2 linked regions of the Homo sapiens genome follow. The protein of the gene in region 1 purifies or fractionates together with the protein of each later gene. This does not show direct contact. Each region holds a gene or a part of one and is shown in the gene's direction. Other genes may lie near its edges.

Evidence for each region. Proteins that work in one complex are often made in the same cells at the same time.
Region 2: the proteins of FAM111B (region 1) and SLBP purify together in Homo sapiens (co-immunoprecipitation; one large-scale study listed by IntAct). This does not show direct contact.

What each region holds. Positions count from the first base shown.
Region 1 is NC_000011.10:59,117,237-59,120,736, forward strand, and holds part of FAM111B (serine protease FAM111B), read left to right. Parts: intron 1-3,500. UniProt on the Homo sapiens protein: Serine protease.
Region 2 is NC_000004.12:1,705,820-1,709,319, reverse strand, and holds part of SLBP (histone RNA hairpin-binding protein), read left to right. Parts: intron 1-3,500. UniProt on the Homo sapiens protein: RNA-binding protein involved in the histone pre-mRNA processing.

The sequences.
Region 1 (3,500 bases):
AGAGACATGTTTGAGTTGGAATTTGCTATCCCTAGACCCTCCTTCCACTTCCACTCTTTTTTGGCATGGGGACTTTTCTGTACTGCCTCCTTAGGAACTCAGGTCCCATCAAAATGTGGAAAGAACAATTACATTTGTTTCGCACATTTGCTTTTTTGATAGTTTCTGAGGAGAGTAGGAGGAGGGCAGGTTTTTCAAGGCTCCTTTAGGGATGCAAGTATGATTACCCCAAAAGGTTCCACCCCCTTCACACTTATCAAGGGTCCCCATAAGAGCCTGGCCTTTCACATATATTATCTCACTTACCAAGCACAGATCAGAGATGTTAAACAAGTAGCCCAAGGTCACACAGTGGGTGGTACATGTAGCAGAGCCTGGATGTGTGCTTCCTCCCTCTGGACCCTACCACCTCCCTCAGAGGTTTCACAGGGCAAGCTGGGACTGGCACTGAATCCTCAGGCCACTTAGTACCCTGTCATGGCCCTCAAGGAATCCGCACCCCAGGCAAAGCCTTCTTCTGAGGTTTGGGAGTGAGAGAGTGACTCCCCAATCTTCCTCCTGTTACCAGTGGAGGGTCTTGACTAAAAGTTGTCCTGGTTCCTGGCATTTTAAAGAAAAACTTAGTAAAAACATACAAACAAAGCAGCAAAAGAAAGAAGCAACGAAAGCATAGATTTATTGAAGTGAAAGTACACTCCACAGAGTGGGAGCAGGCTTGAGCAAGGGGCTCAAGAGCACTGGTTGCAGAATTTTCTGGGATTTAAATACCCTCTAGAGGTTTCTCATTGGTTAATTTGTTTACACCCTATGTAAATGAAGTAGTGGCCCACAACCAGTTTCACTGGTTGCAGGAGAGGACCAACTAGAGGTACTTTCCATGTTTCATCTGCAATGCAGTGGAAAGCGGGAGTTGGGGGCATAATTTGCAAAAAGGAGGAGCCTCTGATCCTTTTGTTACTTGACTGTGGAGAGGTGGAATTTTCCTTTTGATTCAGTTCCAGGAAGTGAGTGTGAATCATCCTTAGGTTCCCTGCCTCCAGGTCCTGTTCTTCTGCCTCACTCCTTCAGACCTGGGGCATCCCTCTTCTTGCCAGCCTGCTCCTCCCCTTGGTTCCAAGGGGGCTCCTGAAGGCTGCATTTGATCACTCAGCAGAACCTGAAGTGGGGAAGGCAGCCAGGTCTTGTTTAATTTCCTACAATATATTTTAGGACAAAAGTCTTGCATATCTTGTCAGAGTTTTCTTCATAGATTACCTGTCATCTGTGAATTAAGATAATTTTACTAATTTCTTTCTGATCCAGATGCCTTTTATTTCTTTCTGTTTTTTATTGCACTGGCTAAAACTTCCATCACAATGGTGAAGAGATTCTGCCAGAGCAAACATTCTTGTGTTTTTTCTAGTCTTGGGAATTCATTCAATCCTACACGATTAAGTATGATGTTACCTGTAAGTTTTTCATAACTGTTCTTCATAAGATTGAAGAAGTTTCCTTTTATTCCTAGGTTGCTGATATTATTAGAAATAGATGTCAGGCTTACCAAATACTTTCTCTATGTCTGTTGAGATGATTCTGTGTATATATAGAAATTTTAATTATTCTAATTGGCTTATTACAGTGATATATTTTTCAAAATTAAACCAACCTTGCATTCCTGGTATTTACCTATTAGTTCTTGCATTTATGTTTATATTGGTCTGTAGTTTTCTTTTATTGTAATGTTTTGCCTGTATATTACAGAGCTAATATATCCCTATTGCTGAGGCAATGTTCTTTTTAGTATTGTACTCAATGCCTCACGAATTATGATGTTTTCCCTATGTCTGGTGGGAACAGCAACTATTCCCAGCCCTGTAAGATCTCCAGGGATTGTTCCTTCTAATATTTTTGGGTAGCTGATTTCCCTGACTTAGGTGATTTCCTCACATGCATGTGCGGATCACTAGTCATCTGAAGACTTAATGGGGACCCTCTCTGTACAGTCCTCTCATGCCCTTTGAAAGCTAAACCCATTGGCTTCCCAGAACTTGGTTCCTTTTCCTCAACTCAGCTGCTACTGAGCGTTGCCTGGATTATTTTCCCTGCACCATGGCCTAGAACCTCTTTTCAGGCAGTAAGCTGGGGCAGTCATAGAGTTTGCATCATTGTTTTTCCGTTTCTCAGGTGTCACTGTCCTTCTTTGACTAATGCTCAATGTCTTGGAAACCATTTTGTATATTTTGTCCATTTCTCCAGGATTTTCAGGCAGGAGTGTAAATTAGTTCTATGTTATTCCATGGTGGCCAAAGTAGAAGCTCAGGATGCTGCTTTTTTTTATTTTTCCAAAGGCTTTAGTTTTAATTAGTGGAAATAATGGGCTATAATGGGCTTACTTTATCTTGGCTGCCCCTATTACTATCAAATACATAAATATAAACATACCAGAAGTTTTCTTAGCCAGATTAAGAGCATCTTCAAAAATCTCACAGGGAATATCATGTTAAATAATGAATCATTATAAGTATTTCCCTTATAATGAGGGAGAATAGAGGAGTGCTCACTATTACTGCCTTTATTTAGCTGGTAAATAAAATTTAATTTAGCCAATGCAGTGTGATAAGAAAAAATAGTAAAATATAATATTTGAGAATTGAAAAGAAGGGAACAAAGCATATTCATGAAATATCCACAGATGGTATCATATCTATTTTTGAAACAAAAAATATTTATAGATAAAATATTAGAATGATTGTAAAGTAGCATATTGGCTAGGGTTAAGGTTGATATTTACAAAACAATGGATTTAGCTTAGTCAGCAATATCAGAAAATGTAATCATCAAAAATTATTTTATAATGCCTAGAAAAATATTATTTACCTGGAAATAAATGTAAAAATTATTTGTTAACCATTTATGGAGAAAATTATTTTGCTGAAGGCATGAAAATGAGACATAAATCAATGTCAAGATATACTAATGAGTAGAAAAATTCAAAATTAAGACAATATTTCATGAATATACAGAAAAATATACCATTGGAATAGAACAGAGAGAGTAGAGACAGACTCACAAATTTCAAGATGTGACAATATCTTTGTATTAGTTTGTGCTATGGTGTGAATCTTTGCGTCCCCCACAATTCATATGTTTAAATCCTAATCTCCAAGGTGATGGCATTAAGAGATGGGGCTTTGATGGGTGATTAGATAATGAGGGCTCTACATAATGTATTTTCTTAGAAAAGTCCAGACTATGTAGTCTCTTAGGGGTAATAAAGTACCACTGACTGTTTGGCTTAAACAACAGAAATGCATTGTCTCATGATTCTGGAGGTTCAAAGTACAAGGTCAAGATGTCAGCAGAGTTTGTGACCTGTTAGGGCTGTGAGGGAAAGATCTGTTCCAGGACTCTCTCCTTAGCTTGTAGTTGGCCATGTTTTTCCTATGGCTGTTTACCTCATCTTCCCTCTGTGTATGTCTATGTCTGTATTTCCACCTTTTCTAAGGATATCAAGGGTATTG
Region 2 (3,500 bases), on another chromosome or scaffold:
AACTTACTGTGCCATATTTTTATGGCCAGCTTATACAGGCACTCGATAAGCCTTTTTCCCAACACCCCATCTCTACTAAAAATACAAAATTAGTCGGGCATGGTGGCGCATGCCTGTAATCCCAGCTACTCGGGAGGTTGAGGCAGGAGAATCCCTTGAACCCAGGAGGTGGAGGTTGCGGTGAGCCGAGATCACGCCATTGCCTTCCAGCCTGGGCAATAAGAGTGAAACTGTCTCAAAAAAAAAAAAAAGACAAAAGACTTGGGTCTACGGGTGGGTACAGAAGAGGCCCTAGGTCCAGATATGAAGGGAAGGTAAACAAACCTTATTGAGATCAAGCTCTGAACTCTCCAGTGGTCTCATTTAGCTGAAGATAAAAATATTAAATCCTTACAGTGCTTTAGAAGTTATGGAAGTTTTTGGTGTCCTCATTCCTCAAACTATAGGAATGCTTCTGTCCTAGGGCCTTTGCACTTGGTATTTGCACATTGTGGATAATGCCTGGAGGCACCTGACAAATAGAGCCAGCTCGTTGATGGATAAGATCTAGAAGTACTCTTTGGAAGGTTGTTAGCTTAGTGTGTAAAATTAGGCTTTGTTGTCCCAAGATAGGGTAGATTATGAATATAACCTACTTAATCTAAGAAATGGACTTAAAGATACCAAAATATGGCATGTAGTATATGGTCATTCACATACACAGGCTTTAAATTATTCTTGTAGTTCAGGAATTTGTTATGTTGGCAGACCCAGACTTGAACCTCTTGATACACTAGTGAGGATGCTTGTATCCAATCCTGGACAAACCTCTATTGAGTCAATTTAATTTTCAGTTAATTACCTAATTTGATTTCATAACTTTCTACCATTTTTAGAATCTGGAAATTTACTTTTAGAAATCCAATTTAAGTTTATCTGAGTTGTGTGACTGTAAGGGAAGAAATGATAATTACATAAGAGGATTATTCATTTGTTACTGCAATTGCATTTTCAAAGCACAGCATTTGGTTTACAGCTAAAATAGGTTGCTTATTTGTTGTAATTAAAGTTAGTATCTAGTGTATTTTTTTGTGACGGGGCATAACTGTCAACCAGGCTGGAGTTCAGTGGTGTGATCTCACCTCACTGTAACCTCTGCCTTCCAAGTTCAAGCAGTTCTCCTGCTTCAGCCTCCAAGTAGCTGGGACTACAGGCATGCGCCACCACGCCCGCCTGATTTTTTTTTTTTTTTTTTCGTTTTTGAGATAGAGTCTTGCTCTGTCGCCCAGGCTGGAGTGCAGTGGCGCGATCTCAGCTCACTGCAACCTCTGCCTCCCGGGTTCAAGCAATTCTCCTGCCTCAGCCTCCTGAGTAGCTGAGATTACAGGTGCGCACCACCACGCCTGGCTAATTTTTGTATTTTTAGTAGAGACTAGATTTCACCATGTTTGTCAGGCTAGTCTCGAACTCCTGACTTAGTGATCAGCCTGCTTTAGCCTCCCAAAGTGCTGGGATTACAGGTGTGAGCCACTATGCCTATCCTAATTTTTGTATTTTTAGTAGAGGCAGGGTTTCATCATGTTGGCCAGGCTGGTCTCAAACTCCCGATCTTGTGATCCGCCCGCCTCAGCCTTCTAAAGTGCTGGGGTCACAGGCATGAGCCTGTGCACCCGGCCCAGTATCTAGTTTTAATGTCAGTAGTGATCAACAGAAAAATGGGGTAGAAAAATAAAAATGTGAGTTTATGTCTGATGTATAAATAAGATACATCAATTTGAACTGCCAGAATTTGGGGCTCGAAGCCTTAAGCTTTTGGATTTCCTGATTATTATTTTTTAAATTTTAATTATTATTTTTTTTAGATGGAATCTCGTTCTGTTGCCCAGGCTGGAGTGCAACCTCCACCTCCCAGGTTCAAGTGATTCTCCTGCCTTAGCCTCCCGAGTAGCTGGGATTATAGGCACCCACCACCACACCCAGCTGATTTTTGTATTTTTAGTAGAGACAGCGTTTCACCATGTTAGCCAGGCTGGTCTTGAACTCTTTTTTTTTTTTTTTTTTTTTTTTTTTTTTTTTTTTTTTTTTTTTTTTTTTTTTTTTTTTTTTTTTTTTTTTGAGACGGAGTCTCGCTCTGTCGCCCAGGCCGGACTGCGGACTGCAGTGGCGCAATCTCGGCTCACTGCAAGCTCCGCTTCCCGGGTTCACGCCATTCTCCTGCCTCAGCCTCCCCAGTAGCTGGGACTACAGGCGCCCGCCACCGCGCCCGGCTAATTTTTTGTATTTTTAGTAGAGACGGGGTTTCACCTTGTTAGCCAGGATGGTCTCGATCTCCTGACCTCATGATCCACCCGCCTCGGCCTCCCAAAGTGCTGGGATTACAGGCGTGAGCCACTGCGCCCGGCCTGGTCTTGAACTCTTGACCTCAGGTGATCTACCTACCTCGGCCTCCCAAAGTGCTGGGATTACAGGTGTGAGCCACCACGCCCGGACTATTATTTATTTATTCATTTATTTTTTGAGACGGGGTCTCTCTCCCCCAGGCTGGAGTGCAGTGCACGATCTCGGCTCACTGCAACTCCGCCTGGTGGATCACTGCAACTTCCACCTCCTGGGTCCAAGGGATTCTCCTGCCTCAGCCTCCCTAGTAGCTGGGATTACAGACACGCGCTGCCACGCCTAGCCAAGTTTTTGTATTTTGGTAGACGCTGGGTTTCACCATGTTGCCCTGGCTGGTCTGGAACTCCTGAGCCCAGGCAGTCTGCCAGCCTCAGCCTCCCGAGGTGCTAGGATTACAGGAGTGAGCCACTGCCTGGCCATAAATTTCCCAATATTGACTGAAGACTATCTTGAACTTGAGATGGAACTGAGCTCCTGGATGTGGTTTAACTCAAGCACAGGGGGTACTTTGCCAGTAGACGGAGTCCTGACACAGCAAGGACTCTGACATATACTCCTCCATACACATTGTAATCATAGTGTACATAACATTCTGAATTATTAATTACATGCGCCCGAAAGGTAAATGGATATGCTAGCTATTCTGTATTTTATTTATTTTCTGAGACGGAGTCTCTTGCTGAGGCTGGAGGAGCAGTGGTGCAATTTCGGCTCACTGCAACCTCCGTCTCTGGGGTTCAAGCAGTTCTCCTGCCTCAGCCTCCCTAGTAGCTGGGGCCTACTGGTGCGCACCACTGCACCTGGCTAATTTTTGTATTTTTATTAGAGATGGGGTTTCGCCATGTTAGCCAGGCTGGTCTCAAACTCCTTACCTTGGGTCATCCACCCGCCTCGGCGTCCCCAAAGTGCTGGGATTACAAGTATGAGCCACTGTCCTCTGCCACCATATATATTTTTTTGAGATATGGTCTTGCCCTGTTGCCCAGACTGGAGTGCAGTGCCAGGATCATGGCTCACACAGCCTTGACCTCCTGGGCTAGAGTGATCCTCCTGCCTGGGCCTCCTGTGTAGCTGGGACTACAGGCACGCCCCACCATGCTTGGGTATTTATTTATTTTGGAGAT